Linked DNA regions of Homo sapiens: region 1 is linked to region 2. A link means that fine-mapping ties the variant in region 2 to the expression of a gene that starts in the linked region. Tissue or cell type: whole blood. Region 2 holds a variant in brackets; the other region holds the start of a gene. All regions are shown on one strand. Distances are from middle to middle.

What was found.
Region 1: SERPINH1 starts here. The variant in region 2 is fine-mapped to the expression of SERPINH1 in whole blood (TOPMed, PIP above 0.99). The same link has a PIP of 0.9 or more in blood mononuclear cells and monocytes.

What each region holds. Positions count from the first base shown.
Region 1 is chr11:75,557,391-75,565,843 of GRCh38, reverse strand. SERPINH1 (serpin family H member 1) reads right to left here and starts at 3,591. Exons shown (of 5, transcript NM_001235.5): 1 at 3,525-3,591. RefSeq lists enhancers at 2,292-2,830, 2,831-3,371, 3,372-3,911, 6,493-7,034, silencers at 3,536-3,585, 3,596-3,855 and cis regulatory regions at 6,047-6,897, 7,370-7,600.
Region 2 is chr11:75,579,869-75,588,321 of GRCh38, reverse strand. It overlaps MAP6 (microtubule associated protein 6), which reads left to right. Exons shown (of 4, transcript NM_033063.2): 4 at 138-1,404. The coding sequence ends at 1,263. It overlaps MAP6-AS1 (MAP6 antisense RNA 1), which reads right to left and starts at 5,126. Exons shown (of 2, transcript NR_145823.1): 1 at 5,041-5,126. RefSeq lists an enhancer at 3,513-4,092 and silencers at 4,839-4,988, 4,999-5,108. The variant G/T (reference allele first, on the strand shown) is at 4,929.

The DNA of each region.
Region 1 (8,453 bases), 22 kb after region 2:
GAGCCCTTTTCCAGTGAGAAAAAGCAGCAGCTGAGCTGAGAATCTGCAGGAAACCCAGATGCCTGGGCAAGGGATGAGGGACAGAGCCGGAGGGCTGCCCCGCCCCCATGCCTTTCATTCTGCTCTGGGATGTTAATGAGTCACCAGTTGGGTCACTCATTAAATGGGGAGCCAAGATGCTCCACTTTGCTGCCCCAAGGGTGACCCTGAGAGTGTGTGTGTGTGTGTCCTGTGTCCACTCAGCCTCAGTCTCCCTTTTCCAAGCTGAAAGGTCCAGGTCTCCATGCCCATGGCTTCTGTCTGGGCAGGAACTTGGAATGCCCATCTACCCACAGTGCTCCCAGTGCGGATGGGAAATCCCCAGGACAAAAGCTCCTGGGGGACCAACTCCTTTGAAGACTCGGTGGGGCTGGGGAGGAGGCTTCCTGACATAGCACAAGGACAGGATACTAGGGAAAAGGGTGAGTCACACATAGCTCAATAGAGCAGTGACCCCCTTCCCCATCACCAGCAGCTGGCCAGATGTGCACTCAGCCTTCAAAGAAGCTGGAGCCACATCAGATTCCATTCTGCCCTCCAATCTGACAGCCACTGCCACACAGGCCATCTGCTCCACGGCTTCAGGGTTGCCCTCAGGCCTCCTCCCCAAGCCCCAGCAGTAGCAGTGGCCCCAAGGACAAGCCCCAGTTCCCTCTCTGGGGCCTCCAATTTGGACAGTCTCTGTTCCTGGGATACTTCCACACTCCCTCTCTCCCTTCGGGCCATTATCCTCCTCTACATCATGCAACAGCACAGGAGAGATGACAGGGCAAAGGGAAGGATAGAAGGAATCCTGGTGGAGGCTGCGATCCCACTGCTCTGGTAGATCCCAACTTGTAGTCATCCTTGAAGAAGACCGAACATTTGAAATCCTGGTGGAAGACCCTCAGGACTCTGGCTGCCTGGGGACCACTGTATTTCTGGGAAGATTCTACTGCTGCCATCCCAAAAACCTGGACAGGCTCCCCATCTCCCGGGACTGCCTCCCTCCTCGGAGCCTTGAAGGTGCAGTATAAGATAAGCAAAGGGTCCAAGGGGAGGGAGGTGGGGAGAGGAGGGAAGGCCCAGAGATCTAAAAATGTCTGGAAGGAGCGGGGAGATCTGAGTCTCACCCTAAAATGAAGGGGATATCTTGGGGCCTAGAATAAACCCCAAGACACCTCCCTCCCAGCTCTGGCTCCTTCCCTGCCAGAACTGGAGCCTCAAAGGCAGAGCAACCATATAATTTATTGCACAAACAAGGACACTTATAAGAGTAAAATGGGCACTACTAATTATTATGCCAGGACAATAGGCATATGGCCACCCTACTCAAAAGCCACCTCTGATCCAGACCAGTGATGCTGGAGCTCAGACCACAGCAGAGGCCAACAGCCTTCCTTCCCTGAGGAGGCAGCTGAAGAGCCCACTCCCAGCCATGCCACGTGGCAGGTACCATCTTGACAGCCCCCACCCCCACCAGCCAGAACCTCAAAGGACTGGGAGGGGCTTCTCAAGCAAGCTCCAAATAACTGGTTTGGGATTCCTCAGGCAGCCCGCTAGGCCCGCAGCAGCTTAGCGCCTGCTCCTGGTGGTGACGTGGCAGGCAGGAGGCTGAACTATCTCCACCGGCCGGCAGAGGGGGGCTTCCAGCCTGGGAAGCAGGCCTGACTCAGGTCCCAGGGGGTGCCACATATTTGCCAGGGGACTCCAGGAGCCTTCTTGGCCTTAGTTCCCTTCCCATCCGCACATGAATCTCTGAAGGGAAATGCGCTACTGGGGAGAAGGGCAGCCCCACTGAACCCAGCAGCAGGAATGGGGGAAGGCAAGTTACTGCAAGCAGGCCAGCCTCCCACAGCCCAGCCCATCTTGCCACAGAGAAATGCCAGCCCTCAGGCCAAGGTTAGCTGAGTTACAGTCCCACAAAGAAAATACAAGATCACCTAGCCAGGGCTGTGCCCACAGCTAGCTGGACTGAGCAGGGTCTGGAAGGGAAGGGGAGGAGATGATGGGACCCCACCAGAGGGTCCCAAACACTTGAGAGGTCTAAAGTACCTGGAAACTGCCTCAGAGGGAGGTCAATGCCTGCCTTTTTCATTCTGAAAGAAAACAGAAGAGTGAAGAGGGCGGGAGCCGGCAAAGGAGAGATGGTGAGGAGGCCCCTGGCGCAGAGGGCACAACCAGTCCCCAATCTACAGGGACCTTGGAGATCGACCACCTCACTGTAAAATGGGAGAAACAAGGCCAGGGCAGGGGGTCACCCCAGGTCCCTCGGGATAAACAGGGGTCTGCCTTCCCAGCACAGGGGTCCTTCCTCACAGAAGCACAGAGCCCCTCCTGAGGGCTGCATGCGGTGTCCTGTTACACAGCCAGTACAAAAAAAAAATCTCTGCTGGGAGTCCCGGTGACAGAGGAGACAAAGGAGAGGACGGGAAGGGGGGATGGGTACATGAACCATCTGAAGACAGGAGGGTGTGGCCCCGGCCGGAATTCCGGAGAACCAAAGCCCCCTCATTTTCCTCAGGCCTCCATCCGGGCCGTACAGCCCAGAGGGACCAGCGGGAAACAAGGAAGAGGAGGGGCTGAGACTCTGGGCCAGTCTGGAAGTGCATTCATTCTCCTTCCTGCTCTTCAGCCACCTCAGGAATGTCTCTAAGCTGGGGGGCAGGGAACCCCAGCCTCTGGAAGTTAGACCCTGCAGTTTAAACCCTGCAGTTACTCCAAGAACCCTGTGGCAGTGGACAGAAGGAAAGACTCAAATCCTTCTAGTCAGCCCCTTAATCCCCAGAGCAGAGCAGACCCTGCTGACCCCCACTCTCTTTTTTCGGAGTGGTAGGGAGCCTCGCTGGCCAAGTCTTTCCTTTGGCTGCCATCATCTAGGCTGCAAGCTGCTGATCAGAAATTGAGCCACTGTCGCCCACTTCTACCAGAGCACACGGACCCCAGGAGTCGAGACGATTTCACCTCCTTTCCCACCACCGGAAGCTCAAATTCCCTCAGCAAGCCTGTGAGGAGGCTGGGCCACCAATCACCGCTGCCCCTGAGCCTCAACCCCAGAACGGAAGTGACCTGGAACTGCGAGGCCGGCCTATCCTCCCTACCCTTGCGGGAAGAGGCACCAGACCCATCTCCTTCCTCCTCTGTTTCTTTCCGCAGAGGCTCTGCTCTCTGCCCCCAGCCCCCTTTACACAGCACCTAGTCTCGTATCTGCCACCACCACCTTTTAGGGGTCCCTGCACTTTTTCCCAGTCCTCCGAGTGCACGGACTCCCAACCCGGCTCCGATCTCCGCCCTAGCCCTCAGCTGGCACCATCACTGGCTAGCCCTGGGCTCTCGATTCCAAACCCTCCAGCGGCCCCCAAAGTGCCGAGGACTCCAATTTGTAGGCTCTGGCTCGGCACCCAACGCTTCGCAGGGTCCCCTCGCCCCTCTTACTCCCTCGCGCACCCCCAGATTGCTCGGCGCTCCCCCGGGCCGCACGCACGCAGGCGTCTCCCGCCCCTCACCTGGGTCGGGCTGGGCTAGCGCCGGGACGTGACTCTCGCTCTCGAGCCGCGACACGATTCTACTCTTAGCCCGCTCCCCTGCTCCCGGGATCTATATATGGCAGTCCCCACCCCCTCCTGCCCGTCCCGAGAAACTTCTGGAAAGTTGGAAACGCTTCCGGAGGGCGCCCCAGCTCCGCCAAAAAAAGCCAAAGACCTCCCTCAAAACCTCCCCGGCCCCCGGCCCCTCCCTCTGCCGGCGCCTCCCGGCCCCTGGGTCCTACTGCCTCCCTCGGCGGCCCGGGCTGCGGGGCGCCGGGAGTCCCCACGGGGATCAGCGTGTCCTTCAGAGTGCGAGCTTCCTCCCACCCCCAGGCTCTCTGCATAAGCTAGCCCACTCCGAATCGCACGTCCTTTCAGGCGCCCCTTTCCCCGCAGGGGCTCTGCCCCAAGCAGAGCCATCTCCCCTTCTCCCCGCTCTCCCCCATTTTCAAGCTGAAACAATTGAGTCCTGTGCACCCCCTCCCTCTCAGGGGAGACGTTCAGGCTTCTGAAGGCAGTGCCCTTCTCCATACTTGTACATTCAAAAAACCTCAACCTCAGCGATGGCCAGAGGGAGAGGGAGCAGACCAGACCCGGTACCTGCCCGGCACCCGGAAAGTTCAAGTCGTGGAGTAATAGAGGCAGAGATGCCTGGGGAACTTCAGGTGGTCTGGCTGGGCTTGGAGGAGTGCACAGGAAGGAAAACCTGGCTCTCCACTGAGCAAGGTGCTGTGTGACCCTAAGCAGGTTACTTTCCCTTTCTGGGCCTCTGTTCCCTTGGCTGTGAAATGTGGTTCTAAGGCATCCCTTGCTTTTTTTCCCCCCTCTCTCCCTTCCTCAATCCTTGTCACCCCTGGCCCCCTCCCTATTGCATCCCCTCCCTCTTTGGGTCCCCTCCCACAGGCCTCAGGTCTCACTGTCAATTCCTACCCCACCCTCGCAAACTGATAGCTCCTTGACCTCCAAGTTAAGCTAGGGTATTCATTACTGTTCTAGGTGCTGAGGACACAGCTGAGAGCTGAACAAAGTCCTTGCCCTGTGCGATGTCCATCTGTGGGGTATGTACCTGTTAGTAGGGAATTCAGTGATTCAGTGAGGCAGATTATTTAGGAAACCCTAAATAATCTGGGCGACAGTGGCTCAATTTCTGATCAGCCGAGGCTCCCTACCCTCCGAAAAGTCCTCTTTAGTAGTTTAATGATAGCTATTGGATGGACGCAGTATGGAGAGGAAGGGACAGGGTAGGGACTCTTCATTCATTCAGTCATGAATGAATGCATTGAGTATCTTCTTTCTTCTAGGTGCTTGCCTGGATCCTGGGGAGCAAAAAAATCCCAGTACCCAGCAAATGAGTCAATCACCTGGGTCCCTGCCCTCTGTTAGTGGTTGTGGGGAAGCCTGGTGGTGGTGACAAACCTCTCTGTCTGGGTAGGCTTCTGCAGCTCAGAGTCTTTTGAGTACAAGGACTGTGGGAAATCTCAGATCCCAAAAGCTTCAGACTCTGTGATTCAGGGTCAAGGAATCAGAGATTACTTCCACTCAAAGCCCCCAAGGAGTCTTTGAATCCAGCTAAGGAATCTTAACATGTTAAAATCTCAGAGTCGAAGGATTCTGGAATAAATGTATTAAAGACTCTGAGCTGCAAGGCATCTCAGAGGTCAGGGGTTCCTGTCTGCAGCCCCAGGCAGAAGCCCTCTTCTCAGTATCCCAAAAAGGCAAGCACCGAGGCACCTCTAAGAAGAGAGAGCTTACCTCCTTCAGAGGCAGCCCCGCATTCTTTTTTAGGACAGGTCTGATTATTAACAAAAGCTTCCAGCCTTGGCATGGTGTCCATCTCTTTGGGGTGGCTGTCGTGGTTCTCATGTGCTTCCTCCTGCCTCAACTGTATATTGCTTTTAAAGATAAATTCTAGGCTGGGCGCGGTGGCTCATGCCTGTAATCCCAGCACTTTGGAAGGCCGAGGTGGGTGGATCACCTGAGGTCAGCAGTTCAAGATCAGCGTGGCCAAAATGGTGAAACCCCATCTCTAATAAAAATATGAAAATTAGCCAGCTGTGGTGTCATGTGCCTGTAATCCCAGCTACTCAGGAGGCTGAGGCGGGAGAATCTCTTGAACCTGGGAGGTGGAGTTTGCAGTGAGCCGAGATCATGCCACTGCACTCCAGCATGGGTGACAGAGCGAGACTCCATCTCAAAAAAAAAAGATAAATTCTTGTTTATCCAAGGAGACCTCCCGGGTCCCAGGCCAGACCCCACTCTCTACTCCCACCCCCACATTGGCCCTCAGGCTTCCTTGTGACTTGGTCAGTGAGCTGAGGGCAGGGCAGAGCAGAAACAAAGAGTGCCCATCAATGCTGGCAAAACAGAGAGGGTCGCCTGGGTTTTCAGCAGGTTCAGATGTCACAATCCCAGTGAGACTCCCTTCCTCTACTCTCTTACATCTCTTAGCTCTTTTAGGCTTCACCAACACCTGAGGGGGAGACTGAGAGTGCTGTGACTGTCCCATTTTGAGGGATAAACCAAAGCTCATGCTGTTAAATAGACCCAGTATCATGAGTGGTCACTGAAGAGAGGACCTGCCCTTACAGACAGCAAAGCTGAGGCCTAAGGAGGGCTGGGTCTGAAGGCCCAACCCCCATCCGACCCCCACTAATCTCACACCGGGTCAGAAGCCTCCTCTGTGACCTATCCCACTGCTGCATTATCTCTGTTATCACCCTGTATTGTCAGTGAACCATCACTGGAGACTTTGGAAGGGCAGGGCCTTTTCCTTGTCACTGTGAGTCCCCAGCTCCAGCAAGGGGACAGTATGGAAGAGGCACTGGGTAAGCATGGCTGGCCAGGGGATGAGAAGTGGCTGCCTGAGGCTGCTGTGCCCCTAGCACAGCCTCCCTGAAGAAGGGAAAGCAACGGCTCCTTTAAATTTCCAAGATCAGCAAAAAAAAAAAAAGTCAAGAGCCTTTGCCACAATATTCTTAGCTCTGAGCCCAGCCCAGACTGACTGTGGCCCTTCCCCCACATTCCAGGCAGAGCTTTCCGGAAAAAGCACTCTTTTAGGGGGTGGGGGAGAAGAGTCTGATAAGCAGAGAAACTCTCAAGCATTTTGTCTCTGGACTCCTCCAGTGCCTCGCTTCACTGAAGGAAGTGGTCCTGGTGCCTGGCACGTGGAGGCTGGCTGGAAATCCTCTAGATCCCTAGGTCCCGAGAGGTGTGGACAGCAGAAAGTAGAAAACCATCAAGTCCAACTGCATCCACACTATACAGAGAGGACAACGGAAGCCCAGAGAGGGCAGGAATTTACCCAAGGTCACACAGCATATCAGAGGTGGGGCTGGGCTGGAGCCTAAGCCCTGGACTCCCAGCCCTCTTTCTCCCACAGTACCCTCTAATGACCCAGGGGGGTATGTAGGCCCAGTTCTGCCAGGTGCTGTGGAAACAGCTTTCTTTGGCCCCAGTGGCTAGATTCACTCAGTCTTCACCCCATAGAATCCTAGGACAAAAACTTGCATGTCATTTAAGTGTGCAACACATTCACATTTATTATCATATTTATTCCTTTCAGGTAAGGAAGAATGTTCCAATTTTCAGCATGAAGAAACTGAGGATCAGGGAGACTAAGCAACAGGGTTAAGGGCACACAACAAGCCAGAGTCAGAGCTGGGTTTTGAATCAGGTCTGTTTATGCCATATCCACGGGAAGGCAGGGAGTGGACGAGAAGGAAGTGACATTTATGGGCCATTTTGCCGCTGCCAGGCCTGTGCTGGGCACCGTCATTAGTGTCTCACTTTTAATTATAGAACGTTAATCGGAAGGAAGTTTAATCCCCTTCTTTTTACATTGGTATAAAATTGGAGCCCAGAAAGCTCCGACAGCCAGTCCAGGGTCGGCCCCCTCCCTCAGGGAGCCAGGGCTGCTATAGGCAGCTCTTCTTTGAGATGCTGTCCAGGAGCCAAGAATGTGCTCTCAGCCCAAGGCATGAGTCAGGAAAACACGATTTCTGTAATCTTGGATTCTCTCTCTTGGAGCGTGGGGCCTTCCATCCAAAAAGGGCTGTCCTGCGTGCTGCCACGTTGGAGGGTGGGCAGCCGGTCCATGTGGGGGTGGGTGGGCACATGATTCCTCCCCTCCTCCTCCCAGAGCAGGCCCGCCCCTACCCGTCTGCAATCCTGGTGCTGAGCGAAGCCACATAGGAACTCCAGCGCCTTCACCCACATGCCTGGCACAATACCCAGGAGACACAAGCCCACTGACTCGCTATATACACAGGCGTATGTGCACCCACATACATGGTGCACACACGGCACTTGAGCAGCCCCTTCACACAATCCATGTACACACATGTCTGTGTAACTCCAGTAACCCAAATGCACCCCACCCCCCTACACAAGTTTTTGTTGGGTATTGACATATACACAGGATCAGGTTCCCCGCCCCCTCTCCCAGCCTCCCTCTCTCAGGCTTCCTCTGGCAACCCATGGAACCAGCTCCAGTGCCTGCAAGACCAGGCCTGAAGGGCTGGTGGGATGGAGGATGTGTGTTAACTACAGCCCTGCCTTTCCCTTCCCGTCTTGTTCTCCTCTCCCTTAGGTGCTGCTGAGCCTGTAATAACAGTGATGCCCAGGTGGGCTACAGGGCTGTCCTCCCTTGTCTTAGCATCCCTGACACTCAGAAAAGGGACTCCTGAGCTCTGACCACCCCCTACACCCTGCCAAACCACCTCTAATCTGCTTCAGCCCAGTTCAGCCCTGCTGTGCTATGGAGTGTGAAATGCCCTCACTTGGGGGTTAGGAGACCTGGGATCCTGCCCCAGGTCTGCCACTTCTTGGCTATGTACCCATGATTTAAATTACCCCTCTGTAAAATAGGACTGATAGTCTGCAGGATGATGAGACACACAGATAAAATAA
Region 2 (8,453 bases):
ATCATATTCTCCTGGCTCTCCAGCAAGAGCTGCCCGGCCCAGGCTCCACTAGGCCAAGACTTATTAGGCAATCTGTACTCTGCCCTGTCCCTGCCTGAGCTCTACTCTCACAGTGATCACCTCTCTCTCCTTTGCAGGAGCCTGGCTCAACCCGTCAGTGATTCAAGTAAGACTCAAGGTCCTGTAGCCACAGAGCCAGACAAGGATCAAGGTTCTGTGGTCCCAGGCCTTCTGAAAGGTCAAGGTCCTATGGTGCAAGAGCCTCTGAAGAAGCAAGGTTCTGTGGTCCCAGGGCCTCCAAAGGATCTAGGTCCCATGATCCCATTACCAGTCAAGGATCAAGATCACACGGTCCCTGAGCCTTTAAAGAATGAAAGCCCTGTTATCTCAGCACCAGTCAAGGACCAAGGTCCCTCGGTCCCAGTTCCTCCAAAGAATCAAAGTCCTATGGTTCCAGCAAAAGTTAAGGATCAAGGCTCTGTGGTACCAGAGTCTCTAAAGGATCAAGGTCCTAGGATTCCTGAGCCTGTGAAGAATCAAGCTCCTATGGTCCCAGCACCTGTCAAGGATGAAGGTCCCATGGTCTCAGCATCTGTCAAGGATCAAGGTCCCATGGTCTCAGCACCTGTCAAGGATCAAGGTCCCATAGTCCCAGCACCTGTCAAGGGTGAAGGTCCCATAGTCCCAGCACCTGTCAAGGATGAAGGTCCCATGGTCTCAGCACCTATCAAGGATCAAGATCCCATGGTCCCAGAGCATCCGAAGGATGAAAGTGCCATGGCCACAGCACCCATAAAGAATCAAGGTTCCATGGTCTCTGAGCCTGTAAAGAATCAAGGTTTAGTGGTCTCAGGGCCAGTCAAGGATCAAGATGTTGTAGTCCCAGAGCATGCAAAGGTTCACGATTCTGCAGTTGTGGCACCTGTAAAGAATCAAGGTCCTGTGGTCCCCGAGTCCGTGAAGAATCAAGACCCCATTCTCCCAGTACTAGTTAAGGATCAAGGCCCCACAGTCCTACAGCCTCCAAAGAATCAAGGTCGTATAGTCCCTGAACCTCTGAAGAATCAAGTTCCTATAGTCCCAGTGCCTCTGAAGGATCAAGATCCTCTGGTGCCAGTACCAGCAAAGGACCAAGGTCCTGCAGTCCCTGAACCTCTGAAGACTCAAGGTCCCAGGGACCCTCAGCTACCTACTGTCTCACCTCTACCCCGAGTCATGATCCCAACTGCCCCCCATACGGAATACATTGAGAGCTCCCCTTGACACTCACCCCTTGACACACCAATGAAGGAGCTGACAGTGAGAGTGCTCCCCTCCCAGGGGCAGTGAAGACACATATTTAATCTGCATGAAACATGTACAGTAGTCTTGCTGGAATCTAATAAAAATGGTCCCTCTGGCTCAGCAATGTTTCTCTCTGTCTCTGTTGGGCAGGGGTGCATACATGTGTATAGGTGGGCCTGTCAGGCTCTGCATTCACCCGTCTGGACCAGAGGGGTCTGAGAAGCACCAGTTCCTGTGAGTTGTCAGCATGAGATGGGAGTGGGTAGGCGATGCTAGATGGAAACAGGACCCCATCACGGAGGTGGGCAGGATAAGGCAAGGGTCAGATACCATGACAGCCTCACAAGAGGTGCCAAATCCCAGCAGGCTGAGCCCTGGGTAGCTGAGTTGAAGCCTGCAGATGAAACAGGAGCAGGGACCCACCTGGCACAGGGGAATTCTGGATGACAGTTGTTTGCCAAGAGCTCAGCCTTAAAGCTCATCCAGGGGTCAAACTTCTTGAGGAAACCAGGCTCTGATCATAAGTCTCAGGACACTGTATAACCTAACACCTGCTAATCCTCATTCAATATCCATGACAGCTCAACTGAGAGCTTCTAAAGAATATACCTAGAGCCAGGCACAGTGGCTCACGCCTGTAATCCCAGCACTTCGGGAGGCTTAGGTGGGTGGATCACCTGAGGTCAGGAGTTCGAGACCAGCCTGGCCAACATGGTAAAAACCCTGTCTCTACTAAAAATAAAAAAATTAGCTGGGTGCGGTGGCAGGCACCTGTAAACCCAGCTACTCAGGAGGCTGAGGCAGGAGAATCACTTGAACCTGGGAGGCAGAGGTTGCAATGAGCCGAGATTGTGCCACTGCACTCTAGCCTGGCTCCAGCCTGGGCGACAGAGCGAGACTCGGTCTCAAAAAAAAAAAGCGTGTGTATGTGTATGTATGTATGTGTGTGTGTATATATATATATACACGTATATATATATATACACGTATATATATATATATATATATATATACGTGTATATATATATGTGTGTGTGTGTGTATGTATATCTGAAGTCCCCATTCATTTCTCCGTGCAGCAAGCTTGTCCTTAGCATGCACTTTGTGCCAGGCTCAGTGCTGAGCACTGGGGTCACTATGGGAAAGAATATTATGACAATAAAACATGGTATGGGATGAGGCCCTAGGACAAGTCAAGACCTGGCTTTGAGAGGCCAGTGAAGAGAGAACACCTGGCAAGAGCAGCCAGGAAGGCTTTCCAGAGAAAGTGGCTGTGGAGTTCTGATGGAGTCTAGGCAGTCCAGACAGGGCAGACAGGGCGGCATGGGTGTGGCTGAGGACCGGGTAACGCTCCCTCTGAAAGTCCTTGAATGAAAGGAATCTGGTTTGCATGAGGACTTGACCAAGGGTATGGCAGGTCTCTGGGGTGGAAAACTAGGACGAGGCAGGGGTGATCCATTTTCTGAATTCCAGGAAATCAGGGAGGGAGTGGGGGTGCGTCCTGTGGGCTGTGATTGTGGGGCTGGCAGGCCGAGGAACAGCCACAGCCAGGCTGTGGGGAGGACGGCTGGGAGCTGCCAGCGGGCCTGGGGCTCAGCCTCAGTCAAAGATGGGTCCGGCCGGGATGCCACTGGCAGGGGCCGCAAGGCCATATTACAGCCTCCCTTTCAAAGCCCAGAGCCCCCAAGAAGCTAGGGTGGAGGCTCCACCAGTTGCCCCCACCAAAGCTGGCTCCCAAGGAATACTGCTATCCCTTTCAAAGGAGCTCAGCTCAGTTCTTACAGGAAAATCATCAGAGGAAATACAGTATGGAGGACACCCAAATAGTCTAGTTTTCTAAGCAAGCCTTCCCCATCCAACTGGCCCCAAGCCTGCCTCCTCACCCCGTTCCCAACAGCACTAGGGTTTTGTCTATACACACACAAACACACACACACACACACACAGAGAAAGAGAGAGAGAGACGTTTCTTCACAGTGAGGTTGGCTTTTTTTGGCCCAACACAAAAGTAGCCCTCAGAGCTTGCTGCCATATGAGCTCCAATAGTCAGAAACCTGAAGATAAGACAAGGCCACATTGAGGCTAAAGAATTGCGTGTGAAGGTCGGGCTCGATGGCTCACGGCTGTAATCCCAGGACTTTGGGAGGCCGAGGTGGGTGGATTATTTGAGGTCAGGAGTTCAAGAGCAGCCTGACCAACATGGTGAAACCCTGTCTCTACTAAATATACCAAAATTAGCTGGGTGTAGTGGCAGGCACCTGTAATCCCAGCTACTTGGGAGGCTAAGGCACGAGAATCGCTTGAACCTGGGAGGCAGAGATTGCAGTGAGCTGAGATCTAGCCACTGCACTCCAGCCCGGGCGATAGAGCGAGACTCTGTCTCAAAAAAAAAAATCGCATGTGGACACCTTCCTCCTCCTCCCAGTCCTTCCTCTGACCCACACACCAGGTCCCATGACACACACGTTTCCACAGGCCAAGCGAACCGTGGCGCCATCTCTGAGAAGCAGAACAAGGTTTCCCTGAGGGCCTCCGAGACACCCGGGGGCAGATGTCCAGGCCACTGGCTACCAAGGCTTGACCTCTGAAGAGACGTCTGGAAACAGGGCCTGGTAGTCAGCTGCCCTGGGGCTGGGGGGAGGATGGTCACAAGCCCCACATGAAGGACGCTGCGCTCCCTCAGAGAGTGTCAGAATGGAAAGAGATGTGGGTCCTGTTCCAAGCGTTGCGGACTTAAGAGGTCAGAGAGAATCGCCCAGAAAAAGTTCAGAGGGGCTGGCCCGGAGCTGTAAGGAGGAACCAGGGAACTGTGGTGCCCGGAGTGATTCAATCAGGAGACAGTGAGGCCGGGTCGAAAGCTGGGAGGGCCGGCGCAGATGAGGACTGAGGGGTGGCCGCTAGATCTGGCAGTTTCTGCTATGAGCCCAGAGCCAGCCCCTCAACATCTTCATTTGCAAGCCGGTCCTGACGCACAGAGCAGCGCCTCTGAGCTGCAGGCCTTCCCAGCTCAGTCCAGTCCAGCCCTCCACTACCCAGAAAGAAGGCCCAGTGCGGGAGGAGGGGCTCTGGGTCCCCATCTTGGGGTGGGGCAGGGAGGGCGGGGGCGCACCCGACTCTCCTGGCCCTTCTTACAAGCAGGCTTCACTCGAGGCCTAGCTCCTCCCTGCGGCAGCCACTTCCCAGTCTCCCGCGGCGTCCCCTTCCCCACCTCTCCCTCCTCCCTCCTCTCCTTCTTCCTCCCAGCTGCGGGAACTCACAAAGCAGGGGCGACCGCAACCCCGCAGTCCGCGGGCTCCCGCGCCCCTGCTGCAGCCGCCCGGGGAGGGGAGAGGACGGCCCCGCGGCGCCGCAGAAAGGGCGCCCCTACGCCGCGAGGGGCAGGGAGTCGGGGGGTCTCTGGAATGGGAGGCTCCCCACCCGGCCCAGAGGCAAAGGCGACCCGCTGAAACTGGATGGGCCGGCGGCGGAACTCCGACCCGAGAGTCCCACTCCGAAGATGCCCAGGCTCGGGAGGGCGTCTCCGCCCACAGAGCCCCGCTACCAGGGCTCTCGGCTCGGAAACAGCAGCCCCCGTCCCCGCGCACTCGCACAGCCCCCCGCCTGCAGGCTCATCTCCGGCCCCGCCCCGGGCTCCGGGCTCCGCC[G/T]CCCGTGCAGCCTGGCCCCGCGAGACCTCGGGACGCGGGATCGGGCCGGTGGGAAGGATAGTGCCCTGGCGAGGGTGGGCGAAAGAGGCCCCGGTATCTGCGCTCTGCCTACCCGCTTTGGGCCGCTAGAAGGCCTGGCTGGGAGACCCTTTCCGGGAGCTGGGCCGAGGCCTCTCTGGAGTCCCCGGTGGCTGGTCTGGGGAAAGGCCGCGATGTTAGTCCTCACACAATGGACCCCACCCGTGATACCTGCCGACGCCCCACACGGCCTAGGCACCTTGTGCCATATTGGGGGAGCGGGGAGACGGTCTATGTGGACAAGGGACAGGAGCCAACTCGGACTGGAGCGACACTTTCGGGAGTCTGTGCCGCTGAGTGGATGGATGGTCTAGAGGAAGTGGGTGGGAATGCACTCGGGTTGACCCAGTTCTCAGCCAGAAACCGGGAAATCCTTTTCAGTACCAGTCTCCGACCCTCAGCTTCCAAACTATCAGTAAGACCTGCCTGGCCTTCCTGCTAAATAGCAAATTTGCCCACTTTTCACTATCTCTATGGCCACCCCCTCTTACCTCACCCATCTCACAATTTGTAATTCAGTCTATGCATCACAGCATGGCACTCAGGTGTAAGAAATGCCACGTCTTTATTTTGGTAAATCTAATTAAATAGACTGGGAGCCCCCTTCTCTCGTTGCCACGGTTGACAGGAAATCTGATATTAGTCATTTTCCTGGAGCCTCATCCTGTCTTTGGGGCTTATCACAATTCCAGGAGGTTCAGGCCATCCTGAGAAGAATCACTATGGCTTCCCTGAGCCCAAGCCGGGGGGCTGGCAGCCCCTCTCCCTCTCCCTAGGGCTTGGCTGGGGACCTCCCAAAGCCTGCCCAGGTTGTGGTATTTCTGCCCAGTTTGCCCAGGCATTCCTATAGCTTCCACATCTGAGCCCATCCCTCAGAGGCCCTGCAACCCAGCCCGCAGGCGCGTGGCCCTTTCTGCACACCTTCATTCCCGGAGGGAAGCCACTCCATCCCTCATCCATCAAAGCACCTGCACTTTCACTCCCTCTCCACCTTGGGCCATCAGTTCAACATCCTCTGCTGGGTGTGGTGGTGCATGCCTGTAGTTCCAGCTATTTCGGAGGCTGAGGCTTGAACCCAGGAGCTCAAGGCTGCAGTGAGCTCTGATCATTCTACTGTGCTCAAGAGCCCATCTCTTGAAGTGGGGGGAAAAGGGGAAAAATCCTCTACGGCGTTTATTCTGGTTCTGGGTGGGCCAGGGCTTCACTGTTTTACATTCCCACCCACAGTGTAGGAGGGTTCCAGTTTCTCCACATCCTTACCAACACTTGTTATTGTCCATCTTTTTCATGTAGCAGTAATTTCTTTGGCTTGTTCCAGAATCTTACATTTTTTTCTTACATAAAAATTGGTATCTAATAAATATGAGTAGATCTCTATTGTTGTGTGGATTAATGGGAATCCAGGAAACAGCTTGTTTTGGCAGGAGGATGGACTCAATTTGGTGTCCAGACTTCTGGACATGGTGGTCTGAGACTGGGAAAAGGGTCTGAGCTGAAGGCGGAGATGCAGACCTCATTGAAATGTGAGCCTCGCCAACCCACAGAAGGTAAAAAGGCTATGAGAGAGGGTGAGTTTACCCAGCAGGAGTGTGGAAAGCGAGAGACGGATGGGGTCAGGTCAGAGCGCTGGGAAACACCCACATTCAGGGGACAGGCAAAAGAAGGAGCCCCCAAGTGGAGGCTGCCCTAAAGCAGCAGAGGAGTCAGAAGAAAACTAGAAAGGAATGTCACCTTGGGGAAGACATCAAGGATGAAGAGTTAACAGGGTTAGAGACCATAACGGCTTCCCTGCAATATGGATTTAGAATCTGTTGAACAAAATGGGCAAAATGTCGTTACATATTGAAGTTTTGTGATGGGTACTATTATTTATTTATTTTGAGATGGAGTCTCACTCTGTCGGCCAGGCTGGAGTGTGGTAGTGAAATCTCCGCTCACTGCAACCTCCGCTTCCCAGGTTCAAGTGATTCTCCTGTCTCAGCCTCCCGAGTAGCTGGGACTACAGGCGCACACCACCACGCCTAGCTAATTTTTGTATTTTTAGCAGAAACAGGATTTCACCATGTTGGTCAGGCTGGTCTTGAACTCCTGACCTCAGGATCTGCCCGCCTCAGCCTCCCAAAGTGCTGGGATTACAGGCGTGAGCCACCGTGCCCAGCTATGTGTACTATTATTTAATTGTCATGTATGTTGGAATTTTTTTCATAGGCGCGAAATTAGTTTTTTTTGTTGTTGTTGTTGTTTTGAGATGGAGTCTCACTCTGTTGCCAGGCTGGAGTGCAGTGGTGTGATCTCGGCTCACTGCAACCTCCGCCCCCCAGGTTCAAGTGATTTTCCTGCCTCAGCCTCCCGAGTAGCTGGGACTACAGGCGCATGCCACCATGCCCAGCTAATTTTTTGTATTTTTAGTAGAGATGGGGTTTCACCATGTTGGCCAGGATGGTCTCGATCTCTTGACCTCGCGATCTGCCCGCCTCGGCTTCCCAAAGTGCTGGGATTACAGGCATGAGCCACTGCATCCGGCTGAAATTAGTTTTTTTTAAAGTAGCAATAAAGAGATCACTGACTTTGGCAATTGTAGACTCTCTAGAGTAGAAGAAACAGAAGCCCGATTTCGGATAAGGGGGATAAGAAAGGAGAGAAGTCAAGTGTGTTTTCATACCTGATGCATAATTTACTGACATCTCATTTAGCAACCACTGAGCACATATAACCCAAGTATCCCTGAGAAAAGAACACACTGTGTGTTACAGTCATTAATTACTTTCACAATCCCTTGGTGCCTCCCACACTGAGACCACTGTCAGCTAAGCCCAGCCAGCAGTGAGCCAAGAGTCCTTCCCCAAAAGGAGGAAAACTGCTTGCTAAGGAGCACCAGGCTTCACTCCTAAATTGTAGATACTCCATTTTGATTCTTCTATCAGAGTTTGCCATGGGTTCAAATACCATCCCATCTGCCGCAGACACTTGAGCCATCTTGGGATCGGCTGGGCTATCAGGGCCATGTGGCAGAGCTGCTTGCCTTTCATTCTGGACCACCTGGAAACTTTCCTTTTCTCTGGACCCCACTCCAACCCTGCAGCCTTATAGGTTACTCAATAACCTTATAAGGATCAGAGAAACACACCAATATATTTTGCTTCCAGAATACATAGAAGCCCAAGAAGTGTTGTGCTTATTAGCAGTAAGAGGCAGAAAGCCCAGCAAGTTGTCTTTCATTTTGCAGGGATCCAGATCACTGAACACCCAGGAACTTCACGTGGTTGGCAGGCCCCTATGTTCTCATGAAACTTACTTCCATTCTTAGGCACACTTATGTCTTATTGATGCATCTGAAGTACCCACTGCTTCTCCTTCTCCCAATCCTAGCAACATAGTATAATCAATGTAGTGGACAAATATAATGGCCTGTGATATGGGAGGATGATCAAAATCTACATAGAAAAT